2 separate regions of the Homo sapiens genome follow, and region 1 is linked to region 2. The links come from fine-mapping of genetic effects on gene expression. Tissue or cell type: testis. Region 2 holds a variant in brackets; the other region holds the start of a gene. All regions are shown on one strand. Distances are between the middles of the regions.

The links. PIP is the estimated chance that this variant, and not a neighbour inherited with it, causes the effect.
Region 1: RYR1 starts here. The variant in region 2 is fine-mapped to the expression of RYR1 in testis (GTEx, PIP above 0.99).

The regions. Positions count from the first base shown.
Region 1 is chr19:38,430,379-38,438,552 of GRCh38, reverse strand. RYR1 (ryanodine receptor 1) reads right to left here and starts at 4,862. Exons shown (of 106, transcript NM_000540.3): 1 at 4,679-4,862. The coding sequence starts at 4,723. RefSeq lists an enhancer at 3,533-4,108 and a silencer at 4,840-4,979.
Region 2 is chr19:38,461,798-38,469,971 of GRCh38, reverse strand. RYR1 (ryanodine receptor 1) reads right to left here. Exons shown (of 106, transcript NM_000540.3): 21 at 6,445-6,549; 22 at 6,122-6,225; 23 at 5,250-5,333; 24 at 3,574-3,881; 25 at 2,160-2,362; 26 at 832-1,006; 27 at 459-667. Among named protein-coding and RNA genes, the nearest start is that of RYR1, 32 kb to the right of the region's middle. RefSeq lists enhancers at 5,271-5,867, 6,378-6,879. The variant G/A (reference allele first, on the strand shown) is at 3,773.

The DNA.
Region 1 (8,174 bases), 31 kb after region 2:
GCCGAGCATGGTGGTATGTTCCTGTAGTCCCTGCTACTCGGGAGGCTGAGGTGGGAGGACTGCCAAGCCTGGGAAATCGAGGCTGCAGTGAGTCATAATCAAGCCCCACCTCCCTGGGGCCCCTGAGACAGATTGAGACCATGTCTCAAAAGGAAAAAAAAAAAATCACGGCCCTCAGGGAGCTTAAATCCTCATGGTGGAGACAGGGAATAAACAGGTGAATTAATATGTAATGTTAATGTCAGTGATAGGTGTTATAGAAAAAATAACCCAGGCTGATGTAAGAGAGTGGCTTTTAGGATGGGGATGAGATCAGTGAGGGAGTGAAGTGACAGCCTCTCCAAGGAGGTGACATTTGAGTTGAGCCTTGTCCAAATAACAAGAAGGAATCAGGCCTGCTCATCTCTGGGGTAAGAGGAGGGAGTCTGGGTGCTGGGGTGTTGAGGGACAGCACAGGAGATGGAGCAGGATGGTGGCCGCAAGGAGGAGGGGCAAACAGGGAGGAGATGAGGTCAGAGAGATACTTGCATGGGCCCCTTGAAAAATAACTTTTTTTTTTTTTTTAAGAGACTGGGTCTCACTCTGTCTCCTGGGGTGGAGTGCAGTGGTACGATCATAGCTCACTGCAGCCTTGGACTCCTAGGCTGAGTGATCCTCTCCATTCAGCCTCCTGAGAAGCTATGACTGCAGGCTCATGCCACCACACCCAGCTAATTTAAGATATATATATTTTTGTAGACACAGGGTCTTGCTCTGTTGCCCAGACTGGAGTGCAGTGGCGAGATCACAGCTCACTGCAGCTTCCGACTCCTGGTTTCAAGTGATCTTCCCACCTCAGCCTCCCAAGTAGCTGGTACTACAGGTGCACACTGCCACGCCCAGCTAAAGTTTAACATTTTTTGTAAAGACAAGGTCTCCCTATGTTGCCCAGGCTGTTTTTGAACTCCCGGCCTCAAGCAATCGTCCTGCTTCAGCCTCCCAAAGCGAAGGGATTACAGGTGTGAGCCATGGGGTCTGGCTATTGTATATAATCTTGTCCCCATTTTCCAGATGAGAACACTGAGGCTCAGAGAGAAAAATAAAAATCACTTGCCCCAAATTAGGAAGCAGGCAAATGGCAAAGCCAGAGTGCAAAGCAGCGACAGAGAGCCCAATCATTACCACATTGATTCTCAAACTTTTCCTGAATTAGAATGAAGGCAGGCTGGGCGAGGTGGCTCATTCCTGTAATCCCAGCACTTTGGGAGGCCAAGGTGGGCGCATCACTTGAGGTCAGGAGTTCGAGACCAGCCTGGCCAACATGGTGAAACCCCATCTCTATTAAAAGTACAAAAATTAGCCGGGCGTAGTGGTGCATGCCTGTAATCCCAGCTACTCGGGAGGCTGAGACAGGAGAATCGCTTGAACCCAGGAGGCGGAGGTTGCAGTGAGCCGAGATTGTGCCATTGCACTCCAGCCTGGGCTACAAAGGAAGACTCCATCTTAAAAAAAAAAGAAAAAGAAAAAAAAAATGAAGGAAGCGGAGGGTTCTGGTTAAAAATATAGCTTCCCTGCTGGCCCAGTCCCCTACCACCATCAAGAGCCTGATTTGGGGTCAGCAGGGAATACGTACTGTTTACCAGACCCCAGGAGCTTCTAACTTGGGCCAGGGTTTGAGAAACCCCAGCCTGGGTAAGGGTAGAGGTCACCACCCACCAAAGGGAAGTGAAATCAGTTTGGGGGGGCTGTGGCCATCATACTTAACCAAACGAAGCAAAATGGAGCAAGAATAGAAAATCACAGCGTGCCCATCATGCTTCAGGGGCCATCTACATTTTATGAGACTTGTTTCAGTTAAAAATAGGTACAAGTGAATGGTCACAGGCCCTGTGTTGTCTATAATAGTAAAAATTGGAGACGACTCAAATGTCCATCAGCAGGTGAACTGATAAACACACCACAGTATAGTCGCACAATGGAATAATATTCGGCAACAAAAAGCAACAAACTCAATACATGCTACATGGATGAATGTCAAAAATATTATGCTGAGTGAAAGAAGAAAGGCCGGGCATGGTGGCTTATGCCTGTAATCCCAAAACTTTGGGAGGCCAAGGCCGGAGGATTTCTTGAGCCCAGGAGTTTGACACCAGCCTGGGCAATATAGTGAGACCTCACCTCTACAAAAAATTTTACAAATTAGCCAAGCATGGTGCTATGCACGTGTAGTCCCAGCTACTCAGGAGGCTGAGGTGGGAGGATCACTGGAGCCTGGGAAGTGGAGGTTGCGTTGAACCAACCACCAAACTGCTGTACTCCAGCCTGGGCAACAGATTGAGACTCTGTCTCAAAAAGAAAAAAAAAGGCCGGGCGTGGTGGCTCACACCTGTAATCCCAGCACCTTGGGAGGCCAAGATGGGTGGATCATCTGAGGTCAGGAGTTCAAGACCAGCCTGGCCAACATGGTGAAACCCCATCTCTACTAAAAATACAAAAAATTAGCTCGGCTTGGTGGCACGCGCCTGTAATCCCAGCTACTCAGGAGGCTGAGGCAGAAGAATCGCTTGAACCCAGGAGGCAGAGGTTGCAGTGAGCTGCGATCACGCCATTGCACTCCAGTCTGGGCAACAAGAGTGAAACTCCATCTCAAAAAAATAAATAAATAAACAAAAACAAAACAACTCATTGAACACATAAACTGGGTAAAATTTATTGCAGGTCAATTATACCTCAATAAAGTTGGTTTTTAGTCATGTCTATGCATGTGTGCATGTACTGAGTTGTAAGACAGAATGTTTCTTATGGGCGGGATGTGGTCCAGAAGGTTTTTTGTTCTGAGATGGAGTCTCGCCCTGTCGCCCAGGCTGGAGTGTGCAGTGGCGCAATCTCGGCTCACTGCAACCTCTGCCTCCCAGGTTCAAGCAATCCTCCCACTTCAGCCTCCCGAGTAGCTAAGATTACAGGCATGCACCACCACGCCTGGCTAATATTTTTTTGTATTTTTAGTAGAGACGGGGTTTCACCATGTTGGCCAGGCTGGTCTCAAACTCCTGACCTCAAGTGATCCGCTCACCTTGGCCTCCCAAAGTGCTGAGATTACAGGCATGAGCCACTGAGCCCAGCCTCCAGAAAGTTTTGAGAAATCCACCACGACCTCAGTAACAATCAGAAAAACTGACCCAGTCTGGGGTGGAGAGATTCCAGGGCCAAGCCTCCAGAACCCTAACGCTGACTACTTTGGCAAGTCTGGGCCCAGATTTTCTCTGGTGAAGGCAATGGGGCTGGGCACCAGGGGCATCCAGAGATGCCACTTCCTGGCCTTGACCTTGGGTGAGTGATTCTACCATTCGGGCCTTGGTTTCCCTCAAATCTGTCAGGGAGATAAAGATAGGACCCTACCTCAGAAGACAGGGCAGCAAGGATATAATTAGATGTCTCAGGAGGCAGAGGCCCAGGGCACAGGGCCTGGTTTAGAGCGACAGCTCAAGAGCCAGTGGCCATGGCCATGGTCTTATTAGGGCTGGGGAGGGCCCGACCCATGGTGTCTGCTGAGGGGCTGGGGCTGGGGAGAGAGTCTCGGCTGAAGCTAGGCCCCTTCCCAGCTGTCCCCATCCTTCACTACCAGCCCCAGCTGTTTGTTCCTCTCTCCCAGGAAACCGGACCCGGCTCGCCAGGGTCCTATTCTGGGGCAGGAATGCTGTGTCAGCATTTCCTGTGTGGCTCCAGGGCCCCGGGGGGAGGGGCGGGGCTAGCGTCTGGTCAGCAGACCTAGCCCAGAGGAGAGGACGTCCCCTCCCATATTTACGACCCCACACCCTGCGGAGCCACTGGGAGGGGAAGATGGGAAGGACAAGGAGATGGCAGCCCCTCCTCCCTCTCATCCCCTCCCCATCCCCTGCCCAGGCCCCAGAAAAGCCGGCTATTCTGGGAGGGACACCTGTTGTTCCAATTCCCATCCCTGCCCCCAGCTGGGGCTCAGATGCAGGGAGTAACCCAGCTAGAGAGACAGCGAAAATCAGAGGGCCTTAAGCTAAGAAACAGAGACAGGGAGACTGAGATGGAGGAAGAGACAGAGACATGGAGACACCCAAAGAGACAGATGGGGAGAGACACCACCCAGAGACCCTGCAAGACCATTAGCAGCCATTGGGAGCAGCCCTCCTGCCCAAAACGAAGAAGGAAAGAAAGACCCAGAACCCAAGAGATCCCTCCCCCACAAGACCCTCAAGGGCTAGGAGTTGGAAGCAGCTGTGTCCTCCAGCTCACTCCAGCTCCCTTCTCAAGAATTTAAATAGGTCAGAGTCTGGAGCAAAAAGAGAATTAGGGCTAAGGTGGGGGTGGGGGGATGGCTAAATCAAGCCCAGGAATTAGAACCACCTTCCCCAAGTGCCTGCTTCCAAGATGGTGTGAGGGTGTGCTCCCTCGGGGGTCCTTCTTGTGGGGGACAAATCGCTAAAGTCAGAAGAGAGGGCAACCGAAGATCCCTTTCCCATTCTGGAGTCCCCAATCCTACTAATTCTCTGTAGTGAGAAAGGTGAAGGAGACTAAAAGACAGAGTGACAGTCACTCAAAGTGACATAGGAAGAGACCTCGAGTCTCAGAGACCACCAGCAAGCCGGACAGGGACATTCAGAGACAGAGAGACCCTCAGAGAGCCCCAAGAGATAGCCCCACAGGCCCCTAACCCAGAGATACGCACCGTCCGCAGGAACTGGACCTCGTCTTCGCCTTCTGCGTCACCCATGATGTCGAGGTCGGAAGCCCAGGGTCTGAGGTCGGGGAACAGAGGGAGGGGGCTGCGGGCTGGGCGGGAGGGCTGGGGGCGGGCTGGGGTCGGAGACCTCTGGAGACACCAGAGGCACCCGCGAGGTAGATGGAACTGCGAGGAGTACACGCATGCTGGACAGAGATGGGAGGAAGTCCCCGCCCCCGGGCCCCATTGGACCAGGACTCCCCGGCCACTCCCCTTCGCCGGAGCCCTGCCCACATACCCCAAATCTTGGCTGGAGGTTTGCTTGGCCGTTGGCCGCCGGAGGTGGGGTGGGAGAGAGAGTATCTAGGAGGTACCTGCGCTTTCTCCCCACCACGGTAAGTAACGTGCCATCATTCTCCCATTTCACAGAGGGCAGACTGAGGCTCTGAGTGGGGAAGTTCTTGCAAGATATCACGCAGCAGAGCAGGGATGTGCACCAGATCTCCTGACTTTAAAAAGCACCAAACATAGTGATTAAGAACAAGGACTCCGGCCGGGAGTGGTGGCTCACCCCTGTAATCTCAGCACTTTGGGACGCCGAGGTGGGTGGATCACTTGAGGTCAGGAGTTCGAGGCCAGCCTGGCCAACATGGTGAAACCCCCGTCTCTACTAAAAGTACAAAAATTAGCCAGGCGTGGTGACACATGCTTGTAATCCCAGCCACTTGGGAAACTGAGGCAGGAGAATTGCTTGAACTCCTTGAATTCGGGAGGCAGAAGCTGCAGTGAGCCGAGATTGAGCCACTGCACTCCAGCCTGGGCGAGACTTCGTCTGAAAAAAAAAAAAAAAAGAACAAGGACTCCGACTCCAAGCCAGATAATCTGGATCTGAATCCCACCCAGCCTTGCCACTTCCTTGAGTTACATGGATAAGCCACTTAGCTTCTCTGTGCCTCGGTTTCCCCATCCAGTAAGGGGAATATTAATAGTACCGACCTCACGTGGTTGTTGGGAGAGTTAAATGAGATAATTAATTAAATGAGATAAAACTTAAAACAGTGCCAGTGCCTGGTTAATGTAATGTAAGTGTTGCTATTATTATTATTTATTTATTTATTTATTTATTTTGAGACGGACTCTTGCTCTTGTTGCCCAGACTGGAGTGCAGTGGCAAGATCTTGACTCACTGCAACCTCCACCTCCCAGGTTCAAACGATTCTCCTCCTCAGCCTCCTGAGTAGCTGGGATTACAGGCACCTGCCAACACACCCGGCTAATTTTTGTATTTTTGGTAGAGACGGGGTTTCACCATGTTGGCCAGGCTGGTCTCGAACTCCTGACCTCATGATTCGCCCACCTCAGCCTCCCAAAGTGCTGGGATTACAGGTGTAAACCACCACGTCCAGCCCTATTAAAATTATTACTAGGCCAGACACAGTGGCTCATGCCTGTAATCCCAGCACGTTGGGAGGCCAAGGCAGACAGATCACTTGAAGCCAGGAATTTGAGACCAGCTTGGTCAACATGGTGAAACTCTGACTCTACTAAAAACACAGAAATTAGCTGGGCATGGTGTCACACGACTCTAATCCCAGCTACTTGGGAGGCTGAGGAACAAGAATCATTTAAGCCCAGGAGGCAGAGGTTGTAGTGAGCCGAGATTGTACCACTACACTCCAGCCCAGGTGACAGAGCAAGGCTCCACCTCAAAAAAAAAAAAAAAAATTTTTTTTATTAACATGTAGTGGTATACAGTAAGTTATATAAAACAATATCCCATAGTTAAACAAAATTACATAGAAACCGTTCTTCAAGGTATAGCAGGTTTCTAGGTGTTCCATAATTAAATACTGATGTTAACACAACTGCAATAAATAGCACAAAAGTTTGTGTCATATTATGGAATTATATAATTTGGCATTATATAATGTATAATTATATAATTATATATTTAGGCTAATATAATTATACAGTACAATACAATTCTATGTTGTATCTGTTATACATTATCCAACGCATAGTTGTATATTAAATATTGTTTTTCCCTAAAACTTTATGTAAATGTAAAATGATTCTGTGTCATTGAGCATTATATCATAAGATATTAATAGTGTTTCTTATTTTTGTCAGTCATCATTATGTGTTTTAAGACCTACCCTTGTTGCTCTGTGGACACCTGGTGTGTGACAGTGGTGGCTTTGCAGGATTCTCTGGTGACTGATCCCTTCTGTTTTTCCACCTACCCCTACTGGGAGCGGACACCCAGGCTGCCTCCAGCTCTCCCGAAATAATGCTGGAGGGAACATCTGTGTATTGGTCCCCCAGGAAGCTGAGGGAGAATGTTTTATTGTGCGTACCCAGAAGCTAATTGCTGGGTGACATATCCATGCGCACCATTTGTGTAAGTAGTGCTGGGTAGCCCTCGGAATGGCTACTCACTACCAGTGCATGAGGGTCCCCGGGTCCCCATATCCCCAACCCTCATGTGGCATTTCCAACTTAACTAATTTTTGCCAGATTTATATAGGGTGACTCACTGTTTTTTAATTTATTTTCTCTATTTTATTTTTAGAGATGAGATCTCACTTTGTTGCCCAGGCTGGGGTGCAGTGGCGCAATTATGGTTCACTGCTGCCCGGAACTCCTGGGCTCAAGGGATCCTCCCACCTCAACCTCCCGAGCAGCTGGGACAACAGGCTTGTGCCACCACGCCCAACTAACTTTTAAATTTTTTATAGAGGTGGGGTCTTACTATATTGCCCAGGCTGGTATTGAACTGCTGGTCTCAAGTGATCCTCCTACCTCAGCTTCCCAAAGTGTTAGGATTACAGGCAAGAGCCACCGCGCCTGGACTCGCTGTCATTTTAATTTCCACTTCCCTGATGAGTTACCAACAATTTCTAGCATCTTCTCAAGTGCCTATCAGAGTTTTGGGTTTCTTTGTTATCTGCTCATTGTGATCCCTGCTCACTTTTTTTTGTTTTTTTTTTTTGAGACAGAGTCTTGCTCTGTCGCCCAGGCTGGAGTTCAGTGGCACCATCTCGGCTCACTGCAACCTCCGCCTCCTGGGTTCAAGCAATTCTCCTGCCTCAGCACCCCCAGGACTACAGGCGCATACTGCCACACCTGGCTAATTTCTTTTGTATTTTAGTAGAGATCGGGTTTCACTGTGTTGCCCAGGCTGGTCTCGAACTCCTGAGCTCAGCCAATCCGCCTGCCTTGGCCTCCCAAAGTGCTAGGATTGCAGGCGTGAGCCACTGTGCCCAGCCTAATTTTTGTATTTTGAGTAGAGACGGGGTTTCGCCATGTTGGCCAGGGTGGTCTTGAACTCTTGACCTCAGGTAGTCTACCCACCTCGGTCTCCCAAAGTGCTGAGATTACAAGCATGTAATCTTACATTATAGGCGCAGGAGCCACTGAGCCCGGCCATTTTTCTATTATGGTTGCTGTCTTTTTCGCTTGCTGATTTGCAGCTGTTCCTTTTATATTCTTTTTTTTTTTT
Region 2 (8,174 bases):
CAACCTCCTGAGTAGCTAGGGCTATATGTGCATACTACACACCTTGCTAATTTTTTTTTTTATTTTTTGTAGAGACGGGGTCTCCCTATGTTGCCAAGGCTGGTCTTGAACTCCTGGGCTCAAGGGATCCTCCTGCCTCAGCCTCCCTAAGTGCTGGGATAACAGGCATGAGCTACCATGCCTAGACTTAATTTTTTTTTATTTTTAGAGATGGAGTTTTGCTTGTTGCCCAGGCAGGGTTTCCCTTATTTTATAGGTGAGGCACCTGGACCTCAGGAAGCTGTGGTTTGCCAAAGTTACACCCGGAGTCATACAGCCCGTGAGCCCATCACTCTGACACTTGCTTCCATGTGGTTTGTGTCCTAACATGGAGGGAAAAGAGAAACTCAAAGAAGAGCACTGTGGAAGGAAGGAGCTTTGGAGGCAGATGAGAAGGCATTGAGGGGCTCAGTCCTTACCTCATAGTGAGGGTGTTCAAGGGGCACTGGCTCAAACTGGGGCAGGCCTTTGCTGAACCAGGTGGTGACTGGGCGCTGCATGTTGATGGCAAATGGCTCGAAGCCTTCCTGGAGGCCACAGATGGCAAAGAACCTCAGAGAGCTCACGTCCTGGCCCAGGTTCAGATGACCCACCTGGCCAGGTCCCAAGCTGCAGACGGGCAGGAAGCCTGGTGGGAGGGGATGGATGGGCAGGGGTGAGGGCAGGTGGGCAGGGCAGAGGGAGCCGAGGGGAGGAGGTAGGGATGGGAGAGTTGGAGGCAGAAGGGCAGTGCAGGGTTGGGAGAGACAGAGGAAAACAAGAAAGGGCATGTGAAGGGGTCTCAGCCCTCACCGTCCCCAATCTCAATCTCCCGGAAGGCTGTTTCGGAGCCTGAGTCAGACATGAGGACCTCGCCATTGAGGGTGAAGATAATGGTGTTCTCTGTGAGGTCGATCATACAGCCAACGACATCGCCCGGCTGCCAGGGGCGCCCAAATGGTTCACTGCCCAAGTGCCAGCGCTGGCCCTGTGAGGACAGCCAGAGAAGACATGGTGTGGGGAGACACACAGAGAAATGGAGAGATAAGGAAGCAGGGAGGGAGAGATATATGAAGACAGACATTCGAAGTGTCAGGTTCAGGGCAGGTGGTATGGAAGAGGGGTCACCCCACAGTGTCTCCATCTTTCCTCACATTTGCATCCATGATCACAGGAATTTTTCTCCCCACTAATCTCTGTGTCTCATCCCTTCTGCCTGGGTTCTCTGCTGTTGCCATGGCTAGCATTATGCAGACCACCAAAGTGGTAGTGGGGGGCTGGAAGCAGCAGTAAGTAGAGGGATGGAAAGGAAAAATGAACCTATCAGTGTCCCCATACAGATCCATATATGCTTATATACATGCACAAAATAGATGAGTGGCTAATGAGACAGATAGATGGATGAGAAATTGGGTACATGGCTGGACAGAAGAATGATTGGAAAGTTGAGAGTTTACCTGGGTTGATACAGAGAAAGAACAAAGTGTAAGTAGGGGCAAGCATAAATAAATGGATGACAGATAGAGGGAAGAAGGGAAGGATGGTTGTATAAATGGTTGTTGGATGGGCAGATGGTTATTGGATGGATGGATGGACAGTTGGCTGGAAGAATGGATGGATGGATGGTTGGTTGGATGGATGAGGGATGAATGGATGATGGATGGATGGTTGAATGCATGGATGGATGCATGGTTGGCTGGTCAGATGGATAGATGATGGATGGATGGATGGATGGATGGATGGATGATGGGACTATATGTGCATGCTACCTTGCCTAGCTAATTTTTTTATTTTTTGTAGAGATGGGGTCTCCCTATGTTGGCTGGATGAATGGATGGTTGGTTAGCTGGATGGATGGTTGGATGGATGGATGGATGGATGGATGGATGGATGGATGGATGGATGATGGATGGATGGATGGATGGATGAATTGTTGGTTGGATAGATGGATGTCTGATAGATCGATGGATGGATGGATGGATGAATCATTGGTTGAATGGATGGATAGATGGGTGGATGAGTGGTACAGTAGATGCATGAAGTGGGGACAGAGTGAGGCACAGACAGAGGCAGGGCCAGAGTAGACAAGCTGTGGGAGAGACCACAGGACCTGGCAGAATGGTGCCCAGGGAGGTACCCACGCGGTGCCCATTGAAGACATAGGCCAGCTCGTCAGCTCCCAGCTCTACATCAGGCCTCAGCTCGGGCCTCGCCCAGCCCACGCGCATCTCGCCTGTGGTGACTGCTTCAAACTCGAAGTACCAGCGGCCGCTCTGCACTGTATAGGATTTCTCTGCCCGGAAGATGCGCACCCGGTCACAACGAGACTGGTTCTCCACCTGACCTATAAATGAGGCCAGGCAGAGTCAGAGAGGCTAGGGAAGATGTGGATCCCAAGACATCGAGAAGTTGGTAGAAGACAGGCTTTGGGGGACAGTAAGGGCTTTGGGGAACTGTTGGAAGAGGGTCAATTTCTTGGAGTTAGAGGAGAATTGGGGAACCTCAGAAAAGTCAGAGAGAGGCAGGGACCTGTTGAGAGAGACCCCCATCTCTGTAGCAGTCAGAATTCTCAGAAAACAGGGATACTGGCAGAGACACAGAAGGAAAAAGCCAGCTCAGTGAACTGGTCAGAGTTATGGTCTGGGGTTAAGGGTCAAGATCAGGGTTGATTAGAATGAAGGGCTGAGACCAGGATTGGAGGGTCAGAGCCAGGATTATGGAAGGGATGGAAATTCAGGTTGGGGCCAAGAGTTGAGAAACTGAAGGTTGGGGACCATGGCCAGGGTTTGGGGTCAAGGCTGGGATTGGAAGCCAGTGATAGGTCAGGAGTCAGGTTAGGGGTAGGGGTGACCAGGCTCTCTAAGCCCTTGGTTGGGTGCCTTCATGTGGTAGCTACAGTTCAGAGATTAGTGATTAGGGATCAAAGCTAGAGGTCAGGAATCAGAGTCAAAGGTGGGGTTGGCACTCATTGGGTTCCTAGGCTGACGGCTCTGGTTTGCAGTCATAGCCCAGGCAGGGCTGGCGTCAGGTAAAGGGAAGTGGTTCCATCAGGTTCCGAGTTGGAACTGGGGTAAGGCTCAGAGTTTCGGGGAGGGGTCAGTCCTTTCTGACCTCCTGGTCAGTCTGCTCGATGTGATAGATATAGCCCATTTGGGCCAGGTGCAGTGGCTCACGCCTGTAATCCCAGCACTTTGGGAGTCCGAGGCAGGCGGATCACGAGGTCAGGAGATCGAGACCATCCTGGCTAAAACGGTGAAATCCTGTCTCTACTAAAAATACAAAAAATTAGCCAGGCGTGGTGGCACCCGCCGGTAATCCCAGCTACTCGGAAGGCTGAGGCAGGAGAATGGTGTGAACCCAGGAGGTGGAGCTTGCAGTGAGCAGAGATCGCGCCATTGCACTCCAGCCTGGGGACAGCGAGACTCCGTCTCAAAAAAAAAAAAAAAAAAAAAGATATAGCCCATTTGGGGGCTGAGTCAGGTCAGAGATCAGGGATCGGGGCTGGGGTCAGAGTTGGGGTAGGAGTCAGGGCCAGGGCCAGGGGTGAGCACTCACTGGGCTCCTGGTCAGGAGGCTCGATGTTGTAGCCGTAGCCCAGGAGGGTGCGCACGGCCTGGCAGAGGCTGTCCCGGTTGCTGCGCTTGGTGGCTTCATCCAGCAGGCGGTAGGGCACCAGCCGAGGGTTTCGGCGCGCTGGGATGTCCTGCACTGCGCTGTAGCTCCAGCCCTGGCCCACGCGGTCTCGGGCCCACAC[G/A]TTGTGCCCATTTTCTGCCAGACGGTCCACCAGTGTCGTCTGCGCCGGCGTCAGCCGCACGTGGCTCAGGTCCAGCGGAGCCGGCTTGTACCCATTGCTCATCATATACCTGCGGGCATGGTAGGGCTCCATGGGACAAGGCCCTCACCTCCACTTCCGGGCTCTGCACTATATGGGATCCCTGACTGCTGACCCTTGTCCCAGCTTCGGCGTTTCTGACCTTTGATATAATGTTGCAGTTCTATGAAATTTTAGAATAAGTTTTGAGATCCCTGGCTTCTGACCCTAGGATCCTGGGACCCTAGCAAGGGCTTTGACATCAATGACCTCTAGCCCCCTTTGTCTTGACTTTGGGACCCCTATCTCTAACCCCGGAACTCTCTCAGACCTCTCACCACTAACTTTGAGGTTTTTCTCTCTCTTTGTTTTTTTTTTGATACGGAGTTTCACTCTTGTTGCCCAGGCTGGAGTGCAATGGCACGATCTCGGCTCACTGCAACCTCCACCTCCTGGGTTCAAGTGATTCTCCTGCCTCAGCCTCCGGAGTAGCAGGGATTACAGGCATGTGCCACCACACCCGGCTAATTTTGTATTTTTGGTAGAGGGTGGGTTTCACCGTGTTGGTCAGGCTGGTCTCGAATTCCCGACCTCAGGTGATCCGCCCGCCTCGGCCTCCCAAAGTGCTCGGATTACAGGCGTGAGCGACTGAGCCCGGCTCTTTTTGTTTTTTTGAGGTTGTTTTCTCGTTCTGTCACCCAGGCTGGAGTGCGGTGGTGCAATCATGGCTCACTGCAGCCTCAAACTCCTGGGTTCAAGCAATTCTCCCATCTCAACCTCCCAAGTTGCTGGAACTACAGGCATGTCCCACCACCATGTCCTGCTAATTTTTAAATTTTTTGTAGAGGGGTCTCACCATGTTGCCCAGGCTGGTCTTGAACTGGGCTCAAGTGATCTTCCTGCCTCAACCTCCCAAAGTGCTGGGATTACAGGTGTGAGCCACCTCACCCAGCCCACTCTGAGGTTTCTTACTCTGATCCCAGTCCTCATCCACCCCAAACTCCTGGGTCTGGAGTCCTTGACCTCTGAACTCAGGACGTGTAACTGCTCACCTATAATTTCAGGATCCCTTACTTAGACGACTCCAACGACCTCCAGATTCTCACCTCTTACCATTGGCCCCTTACCCCTTACGTGGACATGTGACCTCTGCTCTCATTTTCCCTGACTCTAGGCAGACCCTGAGCCTGGATCCTGGACTCATACCCTCCCTCTCTCTCTCTCTGAAACTCCTAACTCCTCAATCCTGGACATTCACCTCTGACCCCAGAGCCCTGACCCTATGACCTTCACCCTAACCCAAGTCTCCTTCCTCCCTAACCTCAGCCTCCCCACAAGACCCCTCGACCTCCCCAGCCCTTAGCACAGCATCCCCAGCCCCCAGTCCATCCCCAGACGGGACCTGGCTGCCCACACTCACGTCTTGGGGAGTTTTGTCTTCTTCAGGTTGTCCTCCGCCTTCTCATCCGCCATGCCCACGTGGCAGCCCAGAGCCAGCAGAGTCCTGGGGGTGGGGGAGTGGAGGCGACAGGTCACGCCCCTCAGAGCTCCCTGCCCCGTCTCCTCCCACGGCCTCAGGGTCTCCAGCTCCCTCTACCTCTGCTGCTTCAGTGCCTGGGGCGCTCTGGCCCTGTCTCTCTTGATCCTGGCCTCAGGCTTCATGACTTCTGTCTTTCCCTGCGCCTTGTCTGTATAACTAACTATGTCTGTCTTTTCCTGTCTGCCACTTTCTCCTGTCTCCCTGTCTCTTTCTGCATCTCTCTCTCTTTCCATCCCCACCTTTTCTTTCTCTCTCTTTCTGCCTCTGTCCCTTTCTTGCTCCCCGTTTGCTTCTTTTTTTTTTTTTTTTTTTTTTTTTTTTTTTCTGAAACGGTGTCTCGCTCTGTCGCCCAGGCTGGAGTGCAGTAGTGTGATCTCGGCTCGCTGCAACCTCTGCCTCCCAGGTTCAAATGATTCTCCTGCCTCAGCCTCCTGAGGAGCTGGGATTACAGAGGTGCACCACCACGCCCGGCTAAGTTTTGTATTTTTAGTAGAGACGGGGTTTTGCCATGTTGGCCAGACTGGTCTCGAACTGCTGACCTCAAGTGATCCACCCGTCTCGGCCTCCCAAAGTGCTAGGATTACAGGTGTGAGCCACCGTGCCCGGCCACTCCCCATTTGTTTATGTCTCACAATCCCTGTCCCCTCCATCCTTCTCTCTCTCAGTCTCTACCTCCTGCCCTGTCTCTCCATGCCTCCCTCCCCCACCGCACCAGCAGCCAGCCCCAACCCCCGGCTCCCCTGGGCCCTCACTTGAGCGTCTCCCCAGACATCTGCAGGTTGTAGTTCCTCTCAGGCTCTGGAAGGCTGTGGAAGTCCACAAGACACGGGTGCAGCCTCTTGTTGTCATCCCGAACCTGGAGAAAACCCAGGGTCAACTCCATGTGCTCCCCTTTCCTTCCCACTCCCCACATGCCCAGACTATGACCCCTGACCTCCAACCCTAGTTCTGCCACCCTCAGTCCAAGGACCCCCTGGTGCCCTGTGGTCCCTCCCTCCTCTCCGCCGGTGAGCCGCTCTCCCTCCTGGCACCGCAAGTCTAGCCGGCCTCCCGCAGGCTGCAGGCAGCCCCTCACCGGGCCGTAGGTCCAGCCCTGCTCGATGCGGGTTAGCGCCCAGAGCTCGTGGATGTTCTCCGCCAGCTTCTCCCGAATGCGCTCCAGATGGGGCGGCAGGACAATCTAGAGGCAGAGGGACGTTCTTGAGACCCCAAGGTCCCTCTACCCTCCTCCATCATGACCCCTCTTTCCAAGAACACCTGTGAGCCCTGGGAGGCTCCTCCAGCACCCCCTTTCCCACCATCCAGCAGCCCTGCTCCCCATCCCTCGCCTTGACTCCAGGGTTGACACTCAGATGGGTGAGGGCTTAGCATTCTCAGAATTAAGGAATTATCCAGGGCCAGCCGTAGTGGCTCACATCTGTAATCCCAGCACTTTGGGAGGCTAAGTGGGGGGGGGGGGGGCAGATCGCCTGAGGTCAGGAGTTCAAGACCAGCCTAGGCAACACGGTGAAACACCTTCTCTTCTAAAAATACAAAAAATTAGCCAGATGTGGTGGTGCGCACCTGTAGTCCCAGTTACTTGGGAGGCTAAGGCAGGAGAATTGCTTGAACTCTGGAGGCAGAGGTTGCAGTGAGCCAAGATTGTGCCACTGCACTTCAGCCTGGGCAACAGAGCAAGACTCTGTCTCCAAAAAAAAAAAAAAAAAAAAAAGAAGAGAGAGTATTAAGGAATTATCTGGGACGGGTCTGTCTCCCCCGTGGACTGGGAGCTCCATGAGGGCAGGGCCTGGGGCTGCCCTGGTCTCCACCAAGTCCCCAGCCCTATCCAGCCCAGAACCAGACTCAGACCCAGAAGAGAGGCTCAGGAAATGTTTGCTGAATGAAAAGAATGGAGGAGTCTCCTTCCTTCTCCGTATGAGGATCATAGCGATACCTAATAAGGACTCAGTGAGATCATTAATGTAAATTACTAAATGTTACATAGTTAATATCGATGCCTGGCAGAGGGTAAGAGCCTAGTAGACAGTAGCGGTGTTGGCGTTCCGCAGGCAAGAGGCAATGATGGTTTGGACTTGGGCGGGACATGGGGATGAGGAAAGCGGGGTCGGGGGGATGTCTGGGAGGCCGAGTGGACAGCCCACGAGGCTGACAGGCTGGGGGATGGGGACAGAGGCATCCAGGGTGAGGCCCAGGGCACTGGTCTGGGGACAGGGGGATGAAGTCACCCCCGCAGATGATATCACTGCTACTAATAATGAGTGACTGTCTTGAGTGCTTACTGTTTAATCAGGACTGGACTAAGCATCTTGCCTATATCCATTCATCTTACCTTCACAACAATGAACAATGCTATCAGATATCAGGGTGTTATCCCCTTTTCCTCACGGAGGAACAAACTGAGGCTCAGGGAGGGGAGGTCACATGCCCAAGATCACGTGACTGAAAACCAAACCTTTGCTGTCAGGCTTTTAAACCTAACCTATATTCCCTCCTATAGGGACATGCTTGGAGGGAAGGCAAAAACAGTCCTTTCTTTCTTTCTTCTTTTGAGATGGAGTCTTGCTCTGTCGCCCAGGCTGGAGTGCAGTGGTGCGATCTCGGCTCACTGCAACCTCCACCTCCCGGGTTCAAGTGATTCTCCTGCCTCAGCCTCCTGAGTAGCTGGGATTACAGGTGCCTGCCACCATGCCTGGCTCATTTTTGTATTTTCAGTAGAGATGGGGTTTCACCATGTTGGCCAGGCTGGTCTTGAATTCCTGACTTTAGGTGATCTGCCCGCCTCAGCCTCCCAAAGTGCTGAGATTA